Linked DNA regions of Homo sapiens. The protein of the gene in region 2 interacts with the protein of the main gene of each other region in a biochemical or structural test. Each region holds a gene or a part of one and is shown on either strand. Other genes may lie near its edges. The genes, in order: PLG, SERPINF2, CFD and KLK13.

What was found.
Region 1: the proteins of SERPINF2 (region 2) and PLG form a complex in vitro, tested with the Homo sapiens proteins (2 studies listed by BioGRID, with this or other methods).
Region 3: the proteins of SERPINF2 (region 2) and CFD form a complex in vitro, tested with the Homo sapiens proteins (one study listed by BioGRID).
Region 4: the proteins of SERPINF2 (region 2) and KLK13 form a complex in vitro, tested with the Homo sapiens proteins (one study listed by BioGRID).

The regions. Positions count from the first base shown.
Region 1 is NC_000006.12:160,705,226-160,712,249, reverse strand, and holds part of PLG (plasminogen isoform 1 precursor), read right to left. Parts: intron 5,844-7,024; coding exon 5,708-5,843; intron 4,551-5,707; coding exon 4,444-4,550; intron 1,174-4,443; coding exon 1,059-1,173; coding exon of another isoform or gene 1,055-1,058; exon of another isoform or gene 378-1,054; intron 1-377. UniProt on the Homo sapiens protein: Plasmin dissolves the fibrin of blood clots and acts as a proteolytic factor in a variety of other processes including embryonic development, tissue remodeling, tumor invasion, and inflammation. In ovulation, weakens the walls of the Graafian follicle.
Region 2 is NC_000017.11:1,745,850-1,752,873, forward strand, and holds part of SERPINF2 (alpha-2-antiplasmin isoform a precursor), read left to right. Parts: coding exon 1-60; intron 61-1,169; coding exon 1,170-1,313; intron 1,314-1,459; coding exon 1,460-1,663; intron 1,664-2,748; coding exon 2,749-2,891; intron 2,892-6,736; coding exon 6,737-6,941; intron 6,942-7,024.
Region 3 is NC_000019.10:855,116-862,678, reverse strand, and holds the start of CFD (complement factor D isoform 1 preproprotein), read right to left. Parts: upstream 3,016-7,563; 5' UTR 2,990-3,015; coding exon 2,935-2,989; coding exon of another isoform or gene 2,914-2,934; intron 2,063-2,913; coding exon 1,906-2,062; intron 1,819-1,905; coding exon 1,674-1,818; intron 981-1,673; coding exon 723-980; intron 1-722. Other genes in the region: ELANE (neutrophil elastase preproprotein), read right to left, coding at 6,515-6,721, 6,885-7,115.
Region 4 is NC_000019.10:51,055,116-51,062,106, forward strand, and holds the end of KLK13 (kallikrein-13 isoform 1 precursor), read right to left. Parts: intron 5,505-6,991; coding exon 5,318-5,504; intron 4,979-5,317; coding exon 4,710-4,978; coding exon of another isoform or gene 4,675-4,709; exon of another isoform or gene 4,630-4,674; intron 3,560-4,629; coding exon 3,423-3,559; intron 1,661-3,422; coding exon 1,472-1,660; 3' UTR 511-1,471; downstream 1-510.

The DNA.
Region 1 (7,024 bases), on a different chromosome or scaffold from region 2:
TTCTTCTGTGAACCTATTTGGGATAACCCCCACCCCCCGAGACCTCAGTTCCCTCATAAAGATGAGCCTAGACTACCTCATAAAAATGGCCCAGAGTGTCTCCATGGCCCCCGATAGTCTCTGACTTTGCCATTTGGTTGAATCAGTTTTCATTAACTCACGGGGAATATTTGATCTGCTCATCTCATAGGGATATAGCAAAGGCAATTTGTTGAGTGTTGGGGGAATGGATAAAGGTGAGTAACAAGCACTAAGTTCCTATTTGATAAGCGTCATTACTGAGAACTTAATGCCACCTAACACCAAACTGGGAAAAGTACAAAAAAATGCACTAAAATAAATAATAGGCAAGTTGCAACATTTGAATTTCACGTATCTTCATTTTCATTTTTATATCTTATTTACTCTTTTGCTCCACAATTTGAGTCGAACATGTGATGAGAGTTCTAACCTGATATGCTTACTTCAGTCCCAAACATAGTCATCTTTGATCTTTTCTCAGATTTGGCCTAAAACTCATAGTTTCATTGATTTTTTTTAAACTAGGCATTCTTCTATGTTCTAGGTCTTCAAGAAACCTCCATATCCAAGAAAAAATAGAAAGCAACCATGTTCTACTATGGTGCCAAAAATAGTTGAACATCGACATCAAAAAGATTCTTTCTATCTGCTTATTCACATATTGTGGTTTGAATTAAAAGTGATGAAATTATCCTAAATACAGTTGGCCCTCTGTATCCATGGGTTCCAGATCCACAAATTCAACCAACTGTGGATGGAAAAGACTTGAAAAAGATGACAGAAAATAACAATATGACAATAAAACATAATACAAATAAAAACAATACAGTATAACAACGATTAAATAGCATTTACATTATATTAGGGATTATACAAGAGAAGGTATGTAGGTTATATGCAAATACTGCACCATTTTATATAAGGGACTTGAGAAGCATGGATTTTGGTAGCCACAGGGGTCCTGGAACCAATCCCTCACAGACACAGAGGGACAACTTTACAGTAGATGAACACAAAGATGAAAGGGAATGTCTTACCTAGGTCTGTGGGGAGAAGTGGAACTCCATTTTTGACAGGTGATGCCATTTTTTGTTTTGGACATCGTCCCTCTGTAGTTCTTTCCATTCCCAGTCTTGCACTCTGAGAGATACACTGAAGGGAAGTCCACACAGTGGTCAAAGTCTTTCACAAGACACCACATGAAGGTCTGCACAGCATAGTCACGTTGAGAAAAAGATCTCATGCACCAGACCCCCTGTTTCTGCTTTCTAAAAGATCATCTTTTGCATCTGCAAAAAGGCTGCAGTAAACTGAGCCATTCTTTGATTCATGTATTCAAATGCTACTTATGAGCTCTCTGTGTATCGAGCCCCACCAGGATGCTGGGGACACACGGGGCACAGTGCAGCCAGAGGCTTGGCCGTCATGGAGCTTACATTCTAGTGGAATCAGGCAGGGGGGTTACAGGAAATATTCAAGGAAACAATATAAAATGAGATCACTTAATGATGATACATATTACATACATGATGAGACAGAGTGAGAGAATGGGGAAAGGGCTTTTTAGATGGGGGAATGGCAGGCTTTTCAGAGGCTGAAAGAGATCCAACCCACTTCTATTTCTTCAGGCTCCCAGTGATATGAAAAAGTGCCAAACAGGGCTATAAAATTGTGGTCTACTGTAAATGGTTTGCAGTAAAAGTTCTCAACCAGCTTCCACTCAACCAACTCACCAGTTAGACAACGGGCCCTCTCCTGTGTTTAAAACAGTCCGGTGCCCACCTGGGTCCACATGCAGCTGGCAGGTGTTTGCTAGTGTGCCCACCCATGTCTGTTCCCCCCACGTGAGTTATGTGCTTACAACGAGTCATTTCTTTGCATTTTCCAACTTTCTTACATTTATATTTAATTAAAGATGATCTAAACTGAGAAATGAATGTGAAAAGAAACAAAGCTCTTTTTTGTTTGGTTTTTAACTAAATTAAATGTTTTTAACAAGTTGAAACATGAATCATTTAAAAAATTGCTATCAAATCCACAGAGGGCAATCCACTCATATAGTTGACTATAAAGCTTGAGGAGGAATTCATAAAAATCTAAAGGTTTTACACATTCAGATTGATTAATAAATGTCGAGATATGGTCCACTTCAAAAATAAGGAAAGTAATTATTGTAGATGTTGCACTGGAGCATAGTTTATGCAGGAAATACACCAGAGACCTTCTACTGGTGACCCCATATTCGAAGAAGAAAAGCCTCTGCTCTACGTCAAAAGGTGTCAAGTACACTTGTGTTTTCAATGAAAATATAAAATGTTTAAGGTATATTTACACCATCATTTAAGGTTACCCACTTTAGCCATTTTTTAATTAATTGATCAATCACATGGGGAAAGTGCTCCTAACATACCTACAGCAAACTAATGCTTTTAACCCAATACTGCGTATTATGATTGCAAGTACATCTTCATTGGGACATAGTATTACAGTAGACATAAGACACTCATCAAAAGTGTAAACTCAAGGTACTTTGTGAAAGGGAGGTCTAGGGGTCAAGGAAGATTTGCAAAGGACATGATGATTGAGCTGACACCTAGGAGATAAGAAGGAGCTGGCACAGCAGGACAAAGGTGAAGAGGGTCCCAGGCAGGAGGGTGTGTGCTTGGGGTGGTGAAGGAACAGAAGTAAGGCCAGTGTAGAAAAGTTTAGCAAGCCAAGCAAACAGCAGCTGGGGGTTACTTAAATAATGCTGGGCCCTAGCACATTTGGGAAGTCTTTGGGTCTTATTTTAAGGGCACTAGGAAGGGCTTTAAACAGGGAAGTTACATTTCTTAGAGATCATGTGTACAGCTACAAGTAGCCCCAACCAGTGGTGATAGGGTCTTGGACTTGGTGAAGGCAGTGTGGCTGGTGGCAAGTGGCAGAAGTAAATGTGATCTAACACTGACTGTTCCTGGCAAAACCCTGGCAGGTAAGTTAGTAGCAGGTCAATATCCCACAGCAAAGAAACAAGGACCAAAAAATGACTGACTTTTGACTTTTCACTTCTTTTTTTTTTGTATGTACCCATCAGAGTTTATATAACCTTTTGCTCCCTTCTGTCACTTTGAAAACAAGCAAACTAAGCCTTCAAACTTCAGACTTCAAACTCAACCTACAGTCATTCCCATGTTCCTTCTGGTTAACAATTTACAAATGACATATTTAAATGTTAGCATTTTGTAGAGAGAATCAGGAGAATCAGGGTTTTTTTTTTTTAAAATCTGGTACAATTAGGTGATCCTATTTAGTTTACCGTTTGCTTGCTACTTGTAAGAACTAATAACTTCACCAGATAAAGTTTAGATTTAATCTGCACTTTAATCTCAAGAATTCGAGATAAATAGTGGTAAGGAAGGAAGTACAATGCGTACAGCTAATGAAACCCAGGAAGATGAGTCAATGCATAGAAATAATTCCAACCCAAATAAATACTATTTAAAATGCTACTTAGAGTTTTGCCGTAATACTAGACACAATATGGCAAATCATCCTCAAGAATACAAGAACTAAGGTGTTTCCAGTCCTCTTTAACACCTGGGATGCAGAATGTTTGGAGAGCTAAATTGTTACTATTAACAGTCTTAATACCTGGCTACCAACACAGTAGAGGAAACAGTTTTTAAAGTGTCATGCATCCCTTCAAATATTTATACTTGATGGGATATGCTTAATGGGAGCATACTTGATGGGATATACTTGATGGGAAATGCTTAATGAAACATTTGCACATCTAAAAAGGCATGCAATTTCTATTGAAATCCTGTCTGCCTCTTATTCTAAGCAGTGGGACTATTGACCCACATTTTAAAATAAACTATAGAAAAGGAACTGTAACTTTTACACATTTTTAAAAGACAACATTTCAGAAATCTGAGAAAAATATAGACCATGTCCCCCAAAATGTGAAAAATTTAAGAGTAAAAATAAGATTTGTGTCCCAATCTAAATGTTTCTGAGGATTAAAACACCTCAGTATTTCTGTTTTACAAGGCTTCATCCAGATGTTAGGGCCCAAGGACCATGGTCACCCTGCAGAATAAGAAGCCAAGACCAAAAGGAATGCTTAGACTTCCCATCTCCTTGTTAAATATAAAATAATATTTTAAAAATCTTATTTTCAGGGTCATAGAGGTAGAAGTGATTTTGTAAATCTAATCCTTTCATCTTTTGAACAAAAAAAATTAAATCTAAGAGGTGAAGTAATACACTCAAGCTGACATGGTTAGTTAGTAATCAAATCCTGTCCTAACTCAGAATTCAGTTTTATAACACGATAGTGCCTTCCTCCTCTGGTCTTATAAATTAAAGATAGAATAGAGAAAGAGGAAGAGTGGGAGGATGGGGAGGACAGTAGGAGGAGGAGGAAGAAAATGTACTCACCTTTCTTTTCAAATAAAACTACATCTCTCATCCTAATGATTATGGAGGACTTCCTGTTTTCAGCCATTATCACACATTGTTGCTCTTTACTGTGATATTGGAATGCCCTGCAGAACGAAGCAGGAAATCCAATAAGTATTTTTCTTTATTTAAAGAAAACAAATGTTTATTAATAAGTGAGACATGCTAAAGATCATTGAATATCTTGAGGGACCAGAGAGCTCAGAATTGCTGCCTCTTTCAGTTATTTGGGCATGGCATCGATGAAGTACTGAACAAAATACACCAACGTGGCAGCAAATCTTATCTGCCCTTACCTTCCCTCCCTCATAATTTTCCCTTTCTTCCTGTTTCAACTGCTTTACTTCTTCTTCACTCATCTTCTTAATTTTTGTTTTTGGGTTGGAAAGAAGCAACTCTGGTTGCTTTGAACCCATTCGCCAAGATAGTCCGTCTCCATGACCTCCCAACTCTGATCAGTTCCCCTGAACCTCTGCTCCACATTCCACCCCACCCTGGCCCCTGACCCCTCCCATCTCCATCCCGTGGTCCTGCTATGGGTGCTCAGTCTGGATTCCATAGCTACCTTCCCAAGCCCGTCACCTACACAAAGTCTCTGCTTTAGTCAACTTCATCTCTTAATGGTCCCCCTCAGAAGGTGCAGGGCCGCATCTTCCCCTGCCTTCCTGGTGCTTGTCAAGAGCTCTCTCAACTCCAAACCCAGCTCAGTTCCCACCTCCTCCCTGAGCCTTCTCTAGCTGCCTCAACCTTAGGCACTGTTCTTTCTTCTGGATCTGGGTAGAGCATGCATTGATTATGCCTGTACCTCACTTGGGCTGTCTTTTTTTTTTTTTTAACATTATATCCAGTTTCTTTGACTACACCTTAAATACTAAAGGGCAGGCACTGGATCTTGTAGCTATAAGTCATTGCTCAGATCTATCTAGGACACTTTCATTCACCTGATCCTCAACAAACATTTACTGATGATGATGTTGAAAACTGGAGCTCAGAACAATAACTGCTAATGTTTGTGTCCGGTGTAAAAACAAATAACTTCCTTTGAGGGTATTTTTCTAACAAAGACTCCAATAAACCTTAACAAGAAGCTGTTAGTATGGCTTCACATACTGTGAGCAAATATAGTTCCAAACTCTGGCTCCATAAATTTCTCTTTCCTCTTAAATCATTAATAAATTTGTGAGTAAATTACTTGCCATCTGAATTACAGATTCCTGCGTAGGTGCAACGACAATGGAAATACCTGCAGGTGAATTCTTCGTCCTCCTCACATTTTGCTGCACATTCTTCTATACTTCCTGCTCCCAGCTGCTTCTTAGTGACACTGAACAGTGAAGCCCCCTGGGTATTCACATAGTCATCCAGAGGCTCTCCTTGACCTAGAGGTGGGAGATCCAAGTGGAATAAATGGTCAGTAAATCAATGTCAATGTCTAATTGTCATGACTTCCTTTTAATCTATTTGGTTAGCATTAACCAAATAAAACTTTCTGTTTACTGGAAGTAGAATGGGTAGCTATGAATCAAAATGTTTAGTTAAGAACACACAGTCGGGCATTTGGACATAAATAAAGATGGCAACTAAAGACACTGGGGACTACCAGAGAAGGGAGAGAGGGAGCAAGGCAAGGGCTGAAAAACTACCTATTTAGTAGGTATTTAGCTCACTACCTGGGTGATGGGATCATTTGTACCCCAAAGCTCAGTGTCACGCAATTTAGTTATGTAACACACCTGCACATGTACCCCTGACTCTAAAAGTTGAAATTATAAAACAAAGAAAAACAGTTTCATTAGCAGATTGCAAGATAGTAAAAGATTAACTGGATTGACAAACAGGTTAGAACTATGGAACCACTACTATGTTACCATATTAGTGGATATAAATCCTTAAACAAGAACAAATTTTATGTTTGCTATTGATTGTGCCATGTCATGAGAGAAGAGTAAGGCACCATCAGTGGCAGTTGTGTTACCAAGATTGATGTTGATTTGTTCATCCCTGGGTAGAAATGGAACTTGGAGGCCATTGTTTGATTTCCTACAATATGCGCTTTGGTTCTGGCACTGTCACTTGAACCGGTGGGAAGCATCCTCTGAATGGTCCCTCCTTGAGAAACATAAATTTTGGTGCATAGATGATGGTGGAAATAAACAAGAACTGAACTAAATTATGTTGCCACCTTGGACAAAAATTGGGCAAAACACTGGAGGGTAAGAAGCTCCCCAACAAAGAAGGCCATTTTTGTACTGGGCTTATGACAGTCACACAACACTACTAATTGGGGAGAAGTCAGTTTTTCCAAGGTGTTGACAGGTATCTGGATTTCGGAGGAAATTGTAAAAAAGCAGGACCTGGGACAAATACTGGTCTTGGTTTTTCTTTGAGATCAAATCTGAGACAACGAATCTGTCCGAAAGCTGCTTTCTGCCTGGTCGTGGCAGAGGGTGGCCAAGGGGGCCTCAGCTGTGCTCCCACCACAAGGCTACAGGGTGTCCCCTTGTCCTGAGGCTCTTCCAGACATCTGGCTGAGCTTTGGTAGCTCTATTCCAAGCCTGGA
Region 2 (7,024 bases):
GCCCCAACCTCATCCTGTCACCCCTGAGTGTGGCCCTGGCGCTGTCTCACCTGGCACTAGGTACCCTGGCACCACTTGTCCAGACCAAGAGAGCTGGGAGGCCAGTAGGAACTCAGTACTCCAATGGTTCTCCGCGGGCGGTTCCTCCACCAGGGTCACGTGGCTGTTTGGTAAAAATGCAGATTCCTAGGCCGGGGCGGTGGCTCACGCCTGTAATCCCAACACTTTGGGAGGCTGAGGCGGGTGGATCACGAGGTCAGGAGTTCAAGACCAGCCTGGCCAACATGGTGAAACTCTCTCTACTAAAAATACAAAAAATTTAGCTGTGCGTGGTGGTGCGCACCTGTAATTCCAGCTACTCAGGAGGCTGAGGCAGAGAACTGTTTGAACCTGGGAGTTGGAGGTTACAGTGAGCCGAGATGGCGCCACTGCACTCCAGCCTGGGTGACAGAGCAAGATTCCGTCTCAAACAACAACAACAACAAATGCAGATTCCTGGGCCCCCACCCATCTGTCTATGTGAATCAGATCTCAGGGACTGGGCCGGGGAATCTGCTTATTTACAAGTCCTCCTGGTGATTTTTTTTTTTTTTTTGAGACAGAGTCTTGCTCTGTCACCCAGGCTAGAGTGCAGTGGTGTGATCTCAGCTCACTGCAACCTCTGTCTCCCAGGTTCAAGCAATTCTCCTGCCTCAGCCTCCCAAATAGCTGGGATCACAGGCACCAGCCACCATGCACAGCTGATTTTTGTATTTTTAGTAGAGACGGGGTTTCACCATGTTGGCCAGGGTGGTCTCGAACTCTCGACCTAAGGTGATCAACCTGCCTCAGCCTCCCAAAGTGCTGGGATTACAGGCGTGAGCCACCGCGCCCGGCCCCTCCTGGTGATTCTTATGCAAGAGTTTGCTAGCTACACTCTTTCCCACTGTGCTGGAGGGTCTCACTGTGGGAAACGGAAGCCCAGAGAGGGAAGGTAACTTGTGGGGGGTGAGGTCACCCAGCCTGTCAGCCACAGGGGTGAGAGCCACGCAGAACAGATCCGTGGCTGTGGAAGGATGGCGTGTGGTCCCGTGGACGTCCTCGTCACGGGTATCCAGGAGGGACTGGAGTGGGCAGTGGGGGTGAGAAAGGACCCGCAGCCGGGCCTCAGCCTGTGCGGTGCCCTCCAGGTGCTCAGAACCACACGTTGCAGAGGCTGCAACAGGTGCTGCACGCAGGCTCAGGGCCCTGCCTCCCCCATCTGCTGAGCCGCCTCTGCCAGGACCTGGGCCCCGGCGCGTTCCGACTGGCTGCCAGGATGTACCTGCAGAAAGGTAGGCGCTGATGGCAGGGAGCTCCCTCAGTCCTGCCCTGGGTGGAGGAGGGTGAGAGCAAGGGGCTGGGCCTCTGGTAGCGAGTAGGGGCGTGTCTGGCTGTGGAGCCTGGAGCCCTGGGAACAGCTTGTGCTGCCTCCGTGCAGGATTTCCCATCAAAGAAGATTTCCTGGAACAATCCGAACAGCTATTTGGGGCAAAGCCCGTGAGCCTGACGGGAAAGCAGGAAGATGACCTGGCAAACATCAACCAATGGGTGAAGGAGGCCACGGAGGGGAAGATTCAGGAATTCCTCTCTGGGCTGCCGGAAGACACCGTGTTGCTTCTCCTCAACGCCATCCACTTCCAGGGTGCGCTCCTCCTCCTCTCAGATCCCCCACCCTGTAGGCTGAGCTGGGACGTGCAGGCCTTTTTGTTTTTTGAGACAAGTCTCGCTCTGTCACCCAGGGTGGAGCGCAGTGGCGCGATCTCGGCTCCCTGCAACCTCCGCCTCCCGGATTGAAGCGATTCTCCTGGCTCAGCCTCCCCAGTAGCTGGGATTACAGGCATCTGCCACCACACCCAGCTAATTTTTGTATTTTAGTAGAGACAGGGTTTCACCATGTTGGCCAGGCTGGCCTTGAACTCCTGACCTCAGGTGATCCACCCACCTCGGCCTCCCAAAGTGCTGGGATTACAGGCGTGAGCCACCGCGCCCGGCCATGCAGGCTTTGTTCTGAGGGTCTCCTTTCTTCCTCAGTCTGGGCCATGAGGCAGGAGGCTGTCTGGGTGTGGTGGGGATGGGTGCCCAGGAGCCAGATGAGTTGTTCTAGAGTGAATACCCTGGGAACAAATGGTCTGAAAAGATCCAGGAGGGGCTGGGCGCGGTGGCTCACGCCTGTAATCCCAACACTTTGGGAGGCCGAGGCGGGCAGATCATGAGGTCAGGAGATGGAGACCATCCTGGCTAACACGGTGAAACCCCCGTCTCTGCTAAAAATACAAAAAAATTAGCTGGGCGTAGTGGCGGGCACCTGTAGTCCCAGCTACTCGGGAGGCTGAGGCAGGAGAATGGCGTGAGCCCGGGAGGCGGTGGAGCTTGCAGTGAGCGGAGGTCGTGCCACTGCACTCCAGCCTGGGCGACAGAGCGAGACTCCGTCTAAAAAAAAAAAAAAAGATCCAGGAGGAGGTTCCTAGGAGAATTGCAGGGGTTGGGGAAAACACAAGCCCAGATTTCAAAAATGCTACGGGAAAGAGACCTTAGATCAATTGGATGCCAGCTAGCATTCCCTGGGGTCTTGGCCTCCACCGCTGTCTCATCCTTGAATGGATTCTGGGTGGGACAGGCAACGGGCTGGGGGTGCAGAGCCCAAGCTGGTCCCCATCGACGTGACCCCTGCCCTCTGCCCCAAGCTGGTCCCCGTCGACGTGACCCCTGCCCTCTGCTGGGTTTCAGGTTTCTGGAGGAACAAGTTTGACCCGAGCCTTACCCAGAGAGACTCCTTCCACCTGGACGAGCAGTTCACGGTGCCCGTGGAAATGATGCAGGCCCGCACGTACCCGCTGCGCTGGTTCTTGCTGGAGCAGCCTGAGATCCAGGTCACCCTTGGTTGTCCAGCAGGCTGGGCCTGAGGCTGGGAGGTGGGGAAGGGAGTGGACAGGCTGTGGAGCAGGCACAGGGATGGGTGGAGGCTGTCTCGCCTTCCTTGCCTCCACGTCCCCTAGGCAGGCAACTGCAAAAGGTCCCATGATCCCCCATCCTACCTGGCAGGAGGACTGAGGCTCCAGGCTCTTTGAGGTTTAGTAATTCAGTGAAAATATACTGGGCATTTGCTGTGTTCCAGATACTGTTCTAAGCACTAGGGTTTTTGTGGAGCATGAGGGAGGCCAGGTCTCTGCTCTTAGGAAGGAGGATACACAGTGCAACAGTGAATGGACATCAACACAGGAATTCCAGACGCTGGGAAGCGCTGTGGAGGGAAAGCTGAAAAAGAAGGTGATTTTGGCCGGGAGCGGTGGCTCACGCCTGTAATCCCAGCACTTTGGGTGGCCCAGGCAGGTGGATCATAAGGTCAGGAGTTTGAGACCAGCCTGGCCAAGATTTGAAACCCCGTTTCTACTAAAAATACAAAAATTAGCCAGGCGTGGTGGCAGGTGCCTGTAATCCCAGCTACTCCAGAGGCTGAGGCAGGAGAATCACTTGAACCCAGGAGGGAAAGGTTGCAGTGAGCTGTGATTTTGAGGTCAGGAGTTCGAGACCAGCCTGACCAACATAGCAAAGCCCCGTCTCTACTAAAAATACAAAAATTAGCCAGCCATGGTGGCGGGCGCCTGTAATCCCAGATACTCTGGAGGCTGAGGCAGGAGAATCACTTGAACCCGGGAGACGGAGGCTGCAGTGGGCTGAGATCGCACCACTGCACTCCAGCCTGGGAGACAGATTGAGACTCCGACTCAGAAAAAACAAAGGCTGGCCTTGAACTCCTGACCTCAGGTCATCTGCCCACCTCGGCCTCCCTAAGTGCTGGGATTACGGGCATGAGCCACCAGGCCTGGCCTTATTTAGGCATTTTAGAGTGGTAAGGGAGAATTCTGTGAGGAGGGGGCATTGAATTGAGACTCAGGTGACCGTTGTTGATAAGGGTTTATTACAAGGGCCCATGGACTTTGGGGCAGCACAGGGACCACCCCACGGCCATGTAGCCACTCAGGGTCTCTGCAGCCCCCAGCCTGGGAGATTCCACGGGGCGCTCACACAGTGCTCCTTAGAAAGGAGGATCTGATTGGATTGGATTTCTCAGCATCTTGCGTGGAACATTCTGATTGGATAAACTTCTTTTTTTTTTTTTTGAGACAGAGTCTTGCTCTGTCACCCAGGCTGGAGTGCAGTGGCACGATCTCGGCTCACTGCAGCCTCTGCCTCCTGGGTTCAAGCCACTCTCCTGCCTCAACCTCTCGAGTAGCTGGAACTACAGGCATGCACCACCACGCCTGGCTAATTTTGTTCGTTTGTTTGTTTGTTTTTGAGACGGAGTTTCTCTCTATCGCCCAGACTGGAGTGCAGTGGTGCAATCTCGGTTCACTGCAATCTCTACCTCCCGGGTTCAAGGGATTCTCCTGCCTCAGCCTCCCGAGTAGCTTGGACTACAGGCGCCCGCCACCATGCCCAGCTAATTTTTGTATTTTTAGTAGAGACGGGGTTTCACCATATTGGCCAGGATGGTCTCAATCTCCTGACCTCGTGATCCGCCTGCCTCAGCCTCCCAACGTGCTGGGATTACAGGTGTGAGCCACCGTGCCCGGCCAATTTTTGTATTTTTTTTTTTTAGTAGAGACAGGTTTCACCATGTTGGCCAGGCTGATCTCAAACTCCTGACCTCAAGTGATCCGCCCGCCTTGGCCTCCCAAAGTGCTGGGATTATAGGCAGGAGCCACTGCGCCCAGCTCTGATTGGATAAAATTCCGTGCCAGGCTGTCTCAGGTGTGGCCTCTCTTGCTTCTAGCCTAAATGTGGTCCCCTTGGCCTGGGTATTGATCCCCGGGCCAGACAGCTGTGGCTGAGATGGCTGTATTTGTTAGCTTCCCAAGGCAAGTGTGACACAGAGCACAGCCACTTCTGCAGGGAGGAGCCAGAAGCCACTTGGGCAGCCCTCCTGGGAGGGGGCTGTGGGTGAGGCTGGCCCGGGAACGCGTCCTGGCTTCCCTGCAGCTCATTCTGAAAGGCCAGTCTGATCCACCTCCCCGAGGCTCCCCTTTCCTGCTTCCCCTTTCCTCCAGGCTGTGTCCTGCGTACTCTTCCTTCATCCTTCGTCTCCTTTCCTTAGGCCCCGTCAGCCTTTCTTGTCCTCAGGCCCTCTGCAGACAGGCCCAAACAGCCAGAACCCGGGGCTTATCCTCCCACGGGCAGGGGTTCTCCACACGGGTACTCTGCCTGGAACCCAAGGAGTCACAGCTGCAGGAGGCCCTCGAGCCCTGTGGTGTCCACACTGCTTTTGCTGCAGAATCCCTTCAAATCAAATCTTAATGGCTGGGCACGGTGGCTCACGCCTGTAATCCCAGCACTGTGGGAGGCTGAGGCAGGTGGATCACCTGAGGTCTGGAGTTTGAGACCAGCCTGGCCCACATGGTGAAACCCCGTCTCTACTAAAAATACATCAATTGGCCAGGTGAGATGGTGAGCGCCTGTAGTCCCAGCTACTCGGGAGGCTGAGGCAGGAGAATCACTTGAACCCGGGTGGCAGAGGTTGCAGTGAGCCAAGATCATGCCACTGCACTCCAGCCTGGACAATAAGAGTGAAACTCTGTCTTGAAAAAAAAAAAAAAAGAGGCTGGGTGTGGTTTACAGGCTCATGCCTGTAATCCCAGCACTTTGGGAGGCCAAGGCAGGTGGATCACGAGGTCAGGAGATTGAGACCATCCTGGCTAACACGGTGAAACCCCATCTCTTCTAAAAATACAAAAAATTAGCCGGGCGTAGTGGCGGGCACCTGTAATCCCAGCTACTCGGGAGGCTGAGGCAGAAGAATGGCGTGAATCCACGAGGCGGAGGTTGCGGTGAGCCGAGATTGCGCCACTGCACTCCAGCCTGGGCGACAGTGCGAGACTCCAACTCAAAAGAAAAGAAAAAAAAAGAAATCTTAAGCCAAATCACAATATATTTACACAGCTGGCAAAGTCACAAGAGGGAGGTGTGGGAGGGTGGGGCGGGCAGCACTCGGCAGTGGCTCACCCACAGAACCCAGCTGTGGTATGACAGCCAGTGACCCTGTCTGTGGTACATCTGGAGAAGCTGAGACAAAGACAGGCGATTCCTTACGCCGGGTCACACGGCCAGCTGGTAGCCGGTGAAGAGAGAAAACCACCAGGTATTATTGAGCACCGTCTGTGACAGCGGACACTGCTACAATGTTGTTTTTTTTCTTTTTTTGAGACGGATTTTTACTCCTGTCCCCCAGGCTGGAGTGCAGTGGCTTGATCTTGGCTCATGGCAACCTCTGCCTCCCGGGTTCAAGCAATTCTCCTGCCTCAGCCTCCCGAGTTGCTGCGATTACAAGCGCCCGTCACCACAGAAGCCCAGCTCATTTTTGTATTTTTAGTAGAGATGAGGTTTTGCCATGTTGGTCAGGCTGGTCTTGAACTCCTGACCTCAGGTGATCTGCCTGCCTCGGCCTCCCAAAGTGCTAGGATTACAGGCGTGAGCCCCCATGCCCGGCCACACTGCTAGAAACTTTAAAAGCATCTCATTCGGTTACGTGTCCGCCTGCAGTGGGACAGGTAGTATGACTCCACCCCACTGTGAGGAAGTGGAGGAGCAGTGGGGTCAGTCACACGCCTGGCAGGATGGCCAGGAGCCCCATTGTCTGCCTTAGGAGCACCTGCTGGCCCCACCCCCACTTAGCTTCGGGGCTTTCTGTCCTCATGCTCTTCCCTTCCCTTTTCTGTAGGTGGCTCATTTCCCCTTTAAGAACAACATGAGCTTTGTGGTCCTTGTACCCACCCACTTTGAATGGAACGTGTCCCAGGTACTGGCCAACCTGAGTTGGGACACCCTGCACCCACCTCTGGTGTGGGAGAGGCCCACCAAGGTCCGGCTGCCTAAGCTGTATCTGAAACACCAAATGGACCTGGTGGCCACCCTCAGCCAGCTGGGTAAGGAGGAGGGTGCGGGCGAGCCCCCGAGGTCAGGCTGGGCAGGGCGGGTAAGGAGGAAGCGTCTGGCTGGCAGTGGAGCT
Region 3 (7,563 bases), on a different chromosome or scaffold from region 2:
TAAGCCCCACCCAATCTTGGCCCCGGCTACCATGCAAGCCTCGGCTGGTCTTAAACCTCTGCCCTGCTCAGGACCCCTTCTCTTCCCTGCCACAGCAGGGATCCCGCTCCGCACCAGCCCTGCCCCTTCAGAGGTTCCCGCCCCTTCCACCTGCCCCGCCCCGTCCCCATGCCCCGCCCCTTCCTCCACGTGCCCGCCCCCTATACCTCCCACCCTTTCTCTGCCACCTGCCCTTTTGCCCGCCCTGACCCTTCTCCAGCCCCACCCTCCCCACAGGTACCGCCCCTTCCTCCATGCCCTGCCCCTCATGCCCCAACCCTCTTCCTGGCCTCGCCCCCTTGCAGTCCCGCTATTACTGGACTCCGCCCCCTCCTCGAGCCCCGCCCCCTATTCCCACCCTAACCCACAGGTCCTTCCACATCCCACCCGTTCCTGCCCTTTCTGCCCGCCCTGACCCTTCTTCAGCCCCACCCTCTCCAGAGGCCCCGTACCTTCTCCAGGCCTCGCCCCCAAGGCCCCACCCTACCCACATGCCCCGCCCCCTCATACAGGCCCCGCCCACGGGCCACCCTCATGCTCCGCCCATCTTCCAGTTCCCGCCCCCTACGCGCCCCGCCCCTTCCCTGGGCCCTGTTCCTACTTGCCCCCCGCTTCGCGCTCCCTCTGCAGGCCCTTCCCGGGGCCTGCAGGCCCCGCGTCTCCTCCCAGGCCTGAAGGCTCACCTTGCAGCTGTCCCGGCGATTGCTCTCCGCGCACATCAAGCGCTCGGTGATGGCGCCGTCGTGGTGCGTGCGCCGGTTGCAGGTGGCGCGGTCCAGCACTGGCAAGAGCACGTGCTGCAGGCTGTCCGGGCGGCGGCCCGCGTGGTTGACTATGCCCCAGCCGGCCACGTCGCAGAGAGTTCCCGGTGCCACGTCGCGGTCCACGCGCTGCCAGGGCAGGGGGCGCACAGCAGGGCCCAGTGTGGCCTTCTCCGACAGCTGAGGGTGGAGGCGGACGTCAGGGTTGGGGTGCGGGGGTGCGAGGCTGGGGAGAATGCCGCTAGGCTCGGGGAGACGGGACGGGGGAGGTGGGCATCAGGGCAGGGGCGTGGGTCTCAGTGCAGCAGGAGAGATTTAGGCTAGACCCTGGGTGGGGGTGCAGGTGGGGATGGGGTGGGTGCGAGGCTCACCAGTGCAGCTGCAAAGGTCGAGGCTGGAACCGGGATGGGGATGCAGGGGGAGCGGGGGGTGGGGGGCTCCCAGTGCAGCCGCAGAGGTCGAGGCTAGACCCGGGGTGAGGGTGCGGGGGTTGTAGGGCGGGGTCCCCATGCAGCAGGAGAGGTCGAGGCTGGACCCGGGGTGAGGGTGCAGGGGGTGGGGGGGCTCCGAGCGCAGCAAGAGAGGTCGAGGCTAGACCCGGGGTGAGGGTGTGGGGGTTGTGGGGCGGGGTCCCCATGCAGCAGGAGAGTTCGAGGCTGGACCCGGGGTGAGGGTGCAGAGGGTGGGGGGGCTCCGAGCGCAGCAAGAGAGGTCGAGGCTAGACCCGGGGTGAGGGTGTGGGGGTTGTGGGGCGGGGTCCCCATGCAGCAGGAGAGGTCGAGGCTGGACCCGGGGCGCGGTGTAGGCGGGGTGGAGTGAGGGTGGGCCGGGGATCCCAGCGCCGCAGGAGGGACTGCGCTACACGGGGCCGACCTGTAGCAGCAGGAGGTCGTGGTCGATGGTGTCGGGCTGGCTGTCCGGGTGGGGCACTGCGCGGAGCACGTCGTACAGGCGCTTGGAGGGCTCCGGCTGCGACAGGGAGTGCGCGCCCAGGAGAACCTGCACCTTCCCGTCGGCCCTGGGGACCGGACGGAGTCCGCGGTCGGTGCCAGCCGACTCCCCCCACCGCACCCGGGCTCTTCCCCCGCGCGGCGCGGGCACTCACGCGTCCTCCAGGCAGTGCGCCGCGCTCAGCACCCACTGCTCCGCCACCAGGACGCCGCCGCACAGGTGCGCGCCGTTCAGCTGCACCGACGCCATGTAGGGCCGCGCGTGCGCCTCGGCCTCTCTGCCGCCCAGGATCCGACCACGGGGCGGCGCCGCTGTGGGTGGGCGGGCGCGTGAGGGCCGCGGGGTGGACTCCTCCCCCGGGCGAGGCTGCCTGACGGGATCCCAGCTCTCACCCCCCAGGCCGCTCCCCGCAAGAATCCCATCTCTGGGCGCGGTGGCTCACGCCTGTAATCCCAGCACTTTGTGAAGCCGCGCGGGGGCGGGGGGGGAGGGGGGGGTGCAGATCATGAGGTCAGGAGTTCAAGACCAGCCTGGCCAATATGGTGAAACCCCGTCTCTACTTTAAAAAAAAATACAAAATTTAGTCGGCGTGGCCTATAATCTCAGCTATTCGGAAGGCTGAGGCAGGAGAATCGCTTGAACCCGGGAGTCGGAGTTTGCAGTGAGCCGAGATCGCACCACTGCACTCCAGCCTGGACGACAGAGCGAGACTCCCTATCAAAAAAAAAAAGAAAGAAAAAAAAGAATCCCGTTTCCGTCTTGGGGCCCCTCAGCGTTGCAAACTCAGATACCCTCGGGCGGGAATGCCCCAGAGTACAGAACCCACAGTGGGCTGGGGACCGGGGGCAGATCCCAGCGCCCTACCCTGGGCGCAGTGCCTTCCAGTTGGACATAAGAGAAATGGGGCTGACCCAGCCAGTGCCTGGGCCAGCCCAGTCAGCCACGCAGATGAAGTTTTCCACGCAGACGTTCAGACTCTGTCTGCAAGAAAAGCTGACTCCAGAAAGTTCCGATTTCCAATCTGAATTTTCTAGAATTTTTCAGCGTTCAGAGCCTTCCATTAGTGAGGAGAGACACCCCCTTCCTGCCCACCTGGAGGGGCTGGAGGACCGTCCGTGTGACGGAAGGGAGCACCACGCCCCTACACAGCCCTGTCCCTCACCCCAGGCCCAGGCCTCCTCACCGCAGGCGGCCGCTCCTAGGAGGACCAGAACTGCCAGGCGCTCCCAGCTGTGCATGGTGAAGCCGCTGTGGCTGAGACACTGACCCAGGCAGGGCCCTGGGGGTGCTTTTATGAGGGTGGAGGGGGCGGGCCGCTCCCCGGGTGGGCAGCGGCCCAGCTGGGGAAAGGGGAACTCGCCCGCCCAGCCTCCGCCCTCCCCGGGACTGGGTTACCTCCTGCCAGACTCACACCAGAGTCGACAAGTCGCTGGGAGACCCTCGGGCCTCTGTGAGCCTGACAGCCTGCTGGCCCTGGTGGGGGGCAGTCCCTCAGATGGGCAGGAGGCAGAGAGGGGGGCTGCACCCACCCCGGCCCCAACTTCACCACACCCAGAGTCCCCCAGGGTGTTTCACAATCCTAGCTGGAGGCCACAGCGTGTAAACAACCCACTTTCTTGTCCTGCTACCCTCCCTTCTTTTCCTCCTCTATATTAGAGAGAAGGTCTGTTGGGGGTAGGAAGGTCACTTGACACCTTTGTCTCTGTCCCTGTGGCCTCTGGGGCTTGACACCCTGACGAATAGAAAGTTGGAAAGGCCAAGGCAGAGGCAGCTGGGAAGACTGGCTACAAGGGACAGGAAAACCCAGACAAACTGGGTGGAGCCTGAATCATGAAAGTTATATGGAAAGTTCAGGGATGTCCGCCTTCAGGTGTGGCTTGATCCAGGTGCCTGAACAATGTCCAGTGTCTGCTTCTGGCTTCTCCTTTCTTCTCTGATGGCTTCTTTCCTCACCAGCCTCCCCTGGTGTGTTTCCAGGGACCCCACACTCAACCCAGTGGCTCAGTGGGCCCCTCCTAAAATTCTTCCTCACTCCAGCCAAGTCTCAAGGGTGCCTTGGGTTGGTGGAGCCTGGATCACACGCCCCCTCCCAAACTGTTCACTGAGGGCAGGTTCTGATGAACAGAGTCAGGGCTGGCCGGGCACAGTGGCTCCCACCTACCATCCCGGCACATTGAGAGACCCAGATAGGAGCATCTCTTGAGCCCAGGAATTCAAGGCCAGCTTGGGGAAGACGGCGAGACCCCATCTCTACAAAAAAATTAAAATAAAATACTTCTCAGAATCTGGGCCATAGGGCCTTTTGTGAGGTGGGGATTTGTGTGTGTTGTTTTTGTTTTATTACAGACAGGGTCTTGCTCTTTCATCCAGGCTCGAGTGCAGCGGTGCAATCATAGCTCACTGCAGCCTCCTCGACCTCCGGGGCTCAAGTGATCCTCCCACCTCAGCCTCCAGAAGTGCTGGGACTGCAGGCCTGCTCATGGTGTAGCTCCATTTTTCACATCTGCCCCACAGGGGCCAGCGGGATTCACGTTGCATTAATCCATGGTGCGGGGACCAGAAGGATGGGGATACCTTGTGGGGAGGACCTCAGACATTGTCCCCAGGGGGAGCAGCACACGAGGTTCCCCCGGCTTTTCTCTTCACCATGGATCATTTCTTTCTTTTCTTTCCTTTTTTTTTTTTTTTTTGAGACGGAGTCTCGCTCTGTCGCCCAGGCTGGAGTGCAGTGGCGCGATCTCAGCTCACTGCAAGCTCCGCCTCCCGGGTTCACACCATTCTCCTGCCTCAGCCTCCGGAGTAGCTGGGACTACAGGCGTCCGCCACCACGCCCGGATAATTTTTTGTATTTTTAGTAGAGATGGGTTTCACCGTGTTAGCCAGGATGGTCTCGATCTCCCGACCTCGTGATCCGCCTGCCTCGGCCTCCCAAAGTGCTGAGATTACAGGTGTGAGCCACCACGCCTAGCCTCATTTCCTTCCTTCCTTTCTCTGTTTTTCTCTTTCTTTCCCTTTCTTTTTCTTTCTTTCTTTCTCTTTCCTTCTTTTTTTCTTTCTTTCTTGCTTTTTTTTTTTTTTTGCGACAGAGTCTTGCTCTGTCGTCCAGGCTGGAGTGCAGTGGCACAATCTCGGCTCACTGCGACCTCCACCTCCCGGGTTCAAGCGATTCTACTGCCTCAGCTTCCCGAGTAGCTGGGATTACACGCATGAGCAACCACACTGGGCTAACTTTTTGTATTTTTAGTAGAGACAGGGTTTTGCCATGTTGGCCAGGCTGGTCTCGAACCTCTGACCTCAGGTGATCCGCCCACCTCGGCCTCCCAAAGTGCTGGGATTACAGGCATGAGCCACCATGCCTGGCCCCCTGTGGATTATTTCATACGCACAGAGAATAGAAAATGATATAACAACAGGGCTGGGCGTGGTGGCTACGCCTGTAATCCCAGCACTTTGGGAGGTCAAGGCGGGCGGATCACGAGTTCAGGAGATCGAGACCATCCTGGCTAACACGGTGAAACCCCGTCTCTACTAAAAATACAAAAAATGAGCCGGGCGTGGTGGCGGGCGCCTGTAGTCCCAGCTACTCGGGAGGCTGAGGCAGGAGAATGGCGTGAACCCGGGAGGCGGAGCTTGCAGTGAGCCGAGATCGCGCCACTGCACTCCAGCCTGGGCGACAGAGCGAGACTCCATCTAAAAACAAAAAAGAAAAAAACACAATGTGGGGAAGTCACTTCTGCTCCATTGCCCTGGCTGTGCTGCCCCCTGGTGGTGGCTTACTCCAGAGATGCCCAAGAGACTCTGGATTCTAGTTTGTTGTTTATTATTATTATTATCATTATTATTTATATTTATTTATTTATTTATTTATTTATTTATTTATTTATTTATTTATTTTTGAGATGGAGTTTCGCTCTTGTTGCCCAGGCTGGAGTGCAATGGAGCGATCTTGGCTCACTGCAACCTCCACCTTCCAGAATTCAGGTGATTCTCCTGCCTCAGGCTTCCCGAGTAGCTGGGATTACAGGCATGCACCACCACGCCCGGCTAATTTTGTATTTTTAGTAGATATGGGGTTTCTCCATGTTGGTCAGGCTGGTCTCGAACTTTAGACCTCAGATGATCCGCCTGCCTGGGCCTCCCAAAGAGCTGGGATTACAGGCACGAGCCACCGCACCGGTATTTTTTTTTTTTTTTTTTTTTTTTGAGACGGAGTCTCTCTGTGTTGCCCAGGCTGGAGTGCAGTGGCGTAATCTCGGCTCACTACAGCCTTCGCCTCGCAGGTTCAAGCGATTCTCCTGCCTCAGCCTCCCACGCGCCACGACGCCAAGCTAATTTTTTTTGTATTTATAGTAGAGATGGGGTTTCACCACGTTGGCAGACTAGTCTTGAACTCCCGACCTCAGGTGATCTGCCAGCCTCGGCCTCCCAAAGTGCTGGGATTGCAGGCGTAAGCCACTGGGCCAGGCTTGGACCATTTTATTTTATTTTATTTTATTTATTTATTTTTTTTTAATGGAGCGGGGGTTTTGCCATGTTGCCCAGGCTGGTCTTGAACTCCTGAGCTCAAGTGATCCGCCTGCCTCAACCTCCCAAAGTGCTGGGATTACAGGTGTGAGCCACCACGCCCGACCTACTGACCATTTTCAACACCCAATCACACAGCCAAGGAGCATCAAACACATTCTACAAAACAGAGAATGTTTATTGTGCCAGATGCTGGAGAGTGTGGGTGTGGGCAGCTGAGGTGACCCGGGCAGCCCTTCTCAGTGGGTCCTGCTGGCCGGGTCCGGGTCCCGGGGGTGGGGACAGGGGTTGTCCTCGGAGCGTTGGATGATAGAGTCGATCCAGTTTACAAACTGTGCCACCGGGGCAAAGGCATCGGGGTAGAGCCCTGAGGCGCAGCCTCCCCGGACGAAGGAGGCAATTCCGTGGATTAGCCCGTTGCAGACCAAGGGGCTGCCGGAGTCCCCCTGTGGAGGCAGACAAGGTGGGGAAGCTGGACTGCGAGGCCCTGCCCACCTGCCCGCCGCCTGTCAGGGTTGGGAAGTCCCTCCTAGGGTCTAGCCACGGTGCCTGTTGCTGCAGTCCGGGCTGGGAGCGGGTGGGGAGCAGAGGGACACCCAGGGCACGTACGAAACAGACGCCGGCCTGCCGGCCCCTCACGAGAGTGCAGACGTTGCTGCGACGGCAGAGGGACGTCACCACCGTCACGTTGAGCTCCTGCAGGACGCTGGCGATCCCACGGTTCCTGCCCAGAAGGCCCCAGCCCATGGCCAGGCACTGCACCCCGTTGCCCAGGCGGCGTCCCTGAGCCGGCAGCTGGGCCACCTGCACGTTGGCGTTGATGGTGGCCGACCCGTTGAGCTGTGGCGGTGGGGACAGATCGTCAGCGCGTCACACGGGGCAGTGATGATGACCCTCCCCTCTCCGGGCCTCAGTTTCCCCATCTCAGGTTCCACTGTGGTTCTGGGATCCTGCAGGGCAGGATACCCACCCCACACTCTGCTCCCCAAGGCAAGCCTCGGTTTCCCCATCTGTAGAGTGGGAGCCGTCACCAAGGCTCAGGGCGTTGGAGGTTGTCCCTGGATGTGGCTTGAGTGCAGGAAGCAGTAGGTGCTCAGTTAACAAAAAAACTACAGCCGGGCGCGGTGGCTCATGCTTGTAAGCCCAGCACTTTGGGAGGGCGAGGCAGGAGGATCACTTGAGGCCAGGCATTCAAGACCAGCCTGGGCAATGTGGCAAAGCCCCATGTCTACAAAAATAATAAAAAAAAATTGCCAGGTGCGGTGGCTCACGCCTATAATCCCAGCAT
Region 4 (6,991 bases), on a different chromosome or scaffold from region 2:
CACCATGTCCAGCTAATTTTTTAAACTTTTTTGTAGAGATGGGATCTTGCTATGTTGTCCAGGCTGGTCTTGAACTCCTGGTGTCAAGCGATCCTCCCACCTTGGCCTCCCAGTGTTGGTATTACAGGCATGAGCTACCACATATGGCCCTTGTTTCATTTCTTGCTATGGCTTGCAGCACCACCTGACAGCCTATTTCTTTATTCATTGTTATGGAGACTTCTTGAAAAGAATGTAAGTTCTACAAGGGCAGAAGTTTTTATCTGTTTAACTCATTGGTTATCACTTGTCTCTGCAACAGTGCCTGGCTCTTGATAGGTACAAATATTTGTTGAGTAAATAAACTATATTTAACAACACCCAGGAGAGTGCTTGCACATAGTCAACACTGAAGAAATGTCTCCTGAGGAAAATAAATCAGTGCAACACTTTTTTTGGACACTCTGCAAATTCGAAGGGCTGTTATTAACATTCTAAGGTAATATTTTATGGGAACCATGCAAATAATAATAGTGATAAATGCTTGACATTTATTCTTGTAATAATGTTACAATTAAAAAAAATTATGAACCCATTTTACAGATGAGAAAGCACAGAGACTGTGAGTTTTATAACTTGTCCAAAGCAAGGATTTGCACTACATTTTAGGGTCATGCACAAAGATGTAACAGCAAGGGACACTGACCAAGGATGTTCATGGAGGGGATACAAGACGGAATATTTGGTAGACAATAAAGTTCAGGCAAGAAGACCCTTTGGTATACTGAACCCTATAACTCTAGAGACTAGGGTGCCATTGATTCAGAGAGGGAATGTTGGCAGAGGTGGGGTATTGGAAGAATGTGGGATGTAGGTTGGGTTGGGACTTCTGAGACACCCATAACAGTGTGAGAATGAAATATTCTGAGGATCCAATGTTAGCTGTGGTGAGTCACAGAGGTACACAGAATGTTGTCAGGGCAGAAGATTGTGGGCATAAGAGAATATTTTCAGGATGAACTATCATGGGAGTCTAGAGCCTTCTTGAGTGCAAAAAATAGAAGGTCTAGGATACTGGCATTGAATAAATACTTGAAGAGTTAGAGGATGTTGTCAAGGATGGTCCATTTATAGGACATATATTGTTGAGATGGGCTGATGGAAATATTTAAGAATGTGCCACAGACAGAACGTTCAGGTGGTGATCTGGGCTCATAGAAGCCACACTGATGAAGTTGAGAGACCTGGGCCATTGTCTGGGTTGGGACATTCAGGTTGTTGAGATGTTTCAGGGATGCAACATCTGGGAGACTGCAAGCCTGGCAGTGCCTGAATGCTTCTGAAACATGGAATGTTAGCTGAGATTGAGCATTTTTCAGGACATGGATCACTGGTTCAAATGGAACACTGGGAATAAGGAGCAGAGAAGGGCTAAGCAGACCATGTGAGGAAGTCATGGTGACAGGATGGAAGCCGGTACATTTCTCAACTTTTATTGTGGGCCCTTCAACCATTTTTGCTGCTGGGTTTCATATTTTCGGATTGTTTCACGGATCCACAGGACGTATCTTGAGACACGGGTGTAGACACCAGGCCGGTCAGGTTGCCCACATGGGAAGTCTCCCCAGGAGACGATGCCATACAGTGTTCTGTTACAGACCAGGGGGCCCCCAGAGTCACCCTGAGTTGGGGAAAGAAAGAGAGAGAGAGGTGGGTCCTTGCTGGGGCTAAACAAGGCAGGGACAGGGAGGTGTGGGGAGAGAGTGAAAGATGGAGAGAGACACACACAGAGAAGGAGACTCAGAGAGGCAGAGTCAGACACACACAGTGTGAGAGAAAGCAATGAAGACAGTGAGAAACAGACAAGAAGACAAACACAGAGGGACAGACAGCAAGAGACAGAAATAGGGACAGAAAGACAGAGATAGGCCCAGAGAAAGAGAGACACAGAGAAATTTCTGTGTTTTTCTCTGTTCCTCAGTTTCATTAAAATGGTAACAACTTACTTCATACCCATTTTTGTTTCCCTGGTACTAAATCACCCCCTGCCCCACACCAGCTGACCCTGCTCCTATTTAAGGCTCATTTGTGTCTCTCACTATTGAGTGAACCCATTCATATCTGGGCAGGGTATGCAACACACGTGTAAGTCTATTTCTCTTCCTGGGCCCAAGGCAGACATCACTAATCGATCAAGGCACATATCATTAATATAGTATCATACTCTTTCTCACTGAATCCAATCTCAACTTCTTTATTGATGAAGGCTATTTTTTGCTCATGTAGTATCCATTTCCTCTTATTTTTAAAAAATTAAACATTCATTTTTAAATTTTTATTTATTTATTTATTAGAGACAGTGTCTTGCTCTATTTATTTCTTTTTGTTTTAGAGACAGGGCCTTGCTCTATCACCCAGGCTGGAGTGCAGTGGCATGATCATACCTCACTGCAGCCTTGAACTCCTGGGTTCAAATAGTCCTTCTGCCTCAGCCTCCCGAGTAACTAGGACTGCAGTTGTACTCCACCACACCTGGCTAATTTAAAAACTTTTTTTTCTTTTTGTAGAGACAGAGTCTCACTATGTTGCCCAGGCTGGTCTCAAACTCCTGGGCTCAAGTAATCCTCTCACCTCAGCCTCCCAAAGTGCTGGGATTACAGGCATGAACTACTGTACTTGGCCATTTCCCCTTATTTTGGTAACAGCCTCTCCTGATTTTTTCATTTGGGGAACTGCCCTTCTCCACTTCCAATCCATGCAGTTTGTCCCTGCCCCTCTCCAGCACCCACAGTTAACTATGTGACTCAGGCTTGGCCCATCAGAGAATCCCACAGCTCTGGTGGAGTGATGGCTCAAGACACATGACTTAGGTCAGCCTAGTGAGAATCATGCTTAAGACTTTTGTGTGAACTATTGGAAAAGAGAGGTTCTCTTTCTAATAGGGTTGCCTAGAGGGTAGGATGTAAGCTCAAAGCTGCTGGGGCCATCTTGTCATGGGAAGAATCTAACCGAGAATGAAGCCAAAACAGAATAAAGAAGAGCTGAGAGTTAAAAGAAAGACAGAATTCCAAACACACAATTTGCATACCTGGATCCATCTGTGCCTAAAGCCAGACAACCTGGATTTTCAGTTACAAAAGCCTGCATTTTGTTTAAGCCAGTTTGAGTTGGTTGTCTATCACTCACAAGTGAAAGAATACCAACCTTTATGCATCTCAACACAGGGATCTTGGCAGCCACTCAGTCAAAGCTGGGGCTTATGATGAATTATTCCTGCCATCCCTGGGTACCCCTTTTTGTCTTGACCTCCTATGTGAGGGGACATTGTATCTTATAAAGATTGGTTCCCCTAAGGCTGGAAACAAAGCTTTTTCCCCAGCATCTGTCACTTCCATTCTGGCTTTCTATCCTGTCCAAGGCACCCACCAGCCTCCCGGCCTCACCTCACAGGAGTCTTTGCCACCCTCTTTTGTGCCGGCACACAACATGTTGTCAGTGATCTTTCCTGGGTAGACTTGACGACACTCCTCATCTGAGCGAAGTTGGATGTTGGCACATTGTAGAGTTTTGGGGTAATTCACTGGGGAGAAGAAAGAGAAGGTCTAAGGTATCCGACCTGGATAGGATATGGGATGAAGGTGAAATAGGCGAGTTGAATGGGTAAAGAGTAGATAGAAAATTGAGATGGGAAGAGAAAGATGGGAGAAGAGATGAGCACCTATCTGGGTAAAGCAACGGAAGTGACAGAAATATGGAGGGACATGGGAGAGAGGCGAAGGGAGAGATGAGGAGAAAAGTGGAGGGAAGGACAAGGAGGGAAGGGACAAGAGAATGGAAGGTTGATAAGGAGAGTGGTGGAGCCAGCGGTGGGGAGAGAAAGTTGGAGAGAGGGAGTTGGAATAGGGAGATGGTCAGAAATAGAGAATTAAAGATGGGAAAAGCAGGAACAGGGATGGGAAGAGTTACGGGAGAGTTGGATAGAATGGTAGGAAGAGAGACAGGGCATGTTGAGGAGAAAGATACAAACATGAGGCTGGGAGAGAGTCAGGGATTGCTAGGGAGATGCAAAGGGCTCTTGTCGGTATATACATCAACTTTATATTCACATATATAATGTATTATACTTACTAAGTAATGATATAGAATTAATTATTACATTGAATTATTAGACATTTCATTAATAACCATATTTAATATATTAAACATTTTATAAATTATAGAAATATAAACATTTTATATGTATGATTTATATATTATAAATGATAAAATTCATTTACAGTATATAAATATATAAATGTATACATTTATAAAATACATTTATAATATATAATTTAAATATAGATTATATATAATATATACATTATGCAGAAATACATATTTAAAATACATAATTGATAAATTTTATAATTTATAAAATACATTTAATTTGTATACTTTTTGTATAATATATAATTATATTACTATATAATACATAATATACATCATATAATATATTCATATATTAGATCTATTTATATTTCTATATATTCATGAATTTATATACTCATATTTTTATATATTCATGAATTTATATTTATATAAAGGATACAGCTAACTTTAAATATATATATTTATTTACTTATTTATATTTTTATATATAAAGGAACCTACCTCAGACCTTCCCTCCCATCTCTGCCCCTGTTTCCCCAGCCACTCCTATGGGGCCTCAGGCCACCTGTGTGGGTGCATACCCTGGGGGCTGGTGGTGGTGCCCCAGCCAGACACCCGACAGGTGGTGCCAGGGGTTAGGCGGTTGTTGTGGGAAAGGGGCAGGGTTTGGATGTAGCCTGTGAGCTGGACCGGGGACTGCAGCTCCAGAAGCATGATGTCATGGTCGTGGTTCAGGTGGGTGGGGCTTCTCCGGTATTCAGGGTGGGGGATAGAGTGGACAACTTCCCTCACCTGCTCACCAGCTTCCACACGCCCTAGGGCGTGCTTGCCTAGGTAAACTTTGAGCCCCCTGTGGGTGCAGAAAGAAGGTGGTTAGGAAAGAAGATGAGCCCATTTCCATCCCCATCCCAGCCCCAACCTCTTCCCATCCCCAACCTAACTTCTTCTCCATCCTACCTTCCTCATCTCCAAATACATCTCCCCCATCCTCAACTTCAATCCCATCCAAATCCCCTACTTTGATTCTATTCCCATACCCAATCCCCATATCTCAACCCCAAACCTCATTCTCACTCCCATGTCCATCCCCAACCCTAACTCCAACTCCATCCTCAAATCCAACTCTACCCCATCCACAATCCCAGTCCCATTCTCATCCCTACCCCATGCTCCCCCGGCCCCCACATACTCCTTTAGACAGTGTGCGGCAGTGAGGACCCATTTGGGGTGGACCAGGACTCCCCCACAGAGTAGCCGCCCTTGCACTAGTAGGGCAGCCTGCCAGGGCTGAGAGTGGGGGAAGCAGGTGTAGCCACCTGGGAGAAACCCACTGGTCCCATTGGTGTTGAGAACCTTGGAAGACTCCTGGGAGACACCTGGTAAAGAAGAGAGATTGTTAGAAAACTGGGATCCAGGGGGCAGAGGAGCCCTGGGGTTGTGGTTTCTGGGTTTGGGGTAAGGGTCGGATTATTGCCCTGGGTGACCAGGAACTGAAGATGAATTTGCCGACCTATGGCAGTTGCTATTCTTGACCAAGTGGAGATGAATTAGGGCAAAGGGGTGACATTATTTTCTCAGGAAGTACCAAATCCTCCACTGGGGGTTAACAGAAGAGTTCACAAAATGAGGATGTTGCTGATAGGTAAGCAGGAGCCTGACTTTCTCTCCACATGCATTTTTTATATCATTCTACCAGAAGATGGATTTCAGGAGGTAGAAGTGAGACTGACCTACACATCCACCTAGGCAATATCTATCCATCAATCTATCCAATCATCCATCCCCCATTCATCCTATTGATTTGTCCATCCGTCTACTCATCCATCTATCCATTCATCCATTTAGGTAGTCATCTAACCATCTATCCATCCATCCATCCATCCATCCATCCAACCATCCATCCACTCATCTGTCCCTCCATCCACTGGTCCATTTATTCATCCATCCATCCATCCATCCATCCATCCATCCATCCATCCATCCATCCAATCCAACCATCCATCCATCCATCTATCCATATATCCATCCATGCATCCATCCAATCATCTTTCCACCCATCTCTCTATCCTTTCACTGCATATATACTGGTTGCCTCCATGGCTTTAAATACCAGCTATAGGCTAATCATCTCCAGCCCTGAACTCTTCTTTAAGCTCAAAACTCAAACACTGTTGATTTGGATGCCTTACAGGCATCTTAAGCTTTGTATTCCCAACTTGATTCTTCTCAATCAAAACTGTTCGCTCCAGTATTTCCCACCTCAGTGCTCAGCCCCAAACCTGGGAGTCATCTTTGCTTCTCTTCTTTCCTTCATCACTCACAACCAGTTCCTATTGGTTTTATCTCCCAAATATCCAGTTATCTCCACACTTCTGCCACCATCTTGGTCCATGCCCCATCTTCTGTAGCCCAAATGACTACAACATTAACCTAAATCCTTCCACTTTTACATCCCTCCGATCCAGTCTTCTCAAAGTAGGCTGAGGACTCTTCAAACAAAGAAAGTCAGATGTTGTTCCCAGGCTCAACTTTCTTTAAAATAAAATCCAAAAAGCCTTCCCAAGGTGTGCAGGACTCTGTGCTGTCTGGCCCTTGCCAGCCTCTTTGACCCCATCTCCAACCTCTTTCTTCTGACTTCCTCTAGTCCAGCCTCATGGGCCTGTTCTTCAAACACACCAGGCATTTAAAGAAAAGAAGAATTTAAATCATCTTGGATGCCCCCATACTAGACATTTTATACTTGCTATTTCCTCTCTCTGCACAGTCCTTTCTCCAGACCTATGTTGTTTAATATGGTAGCCACTAGCTACATGTGGCTATTTAAATTTAAACTAATTAAAATGAAGTAAAACTAAATTAAAAA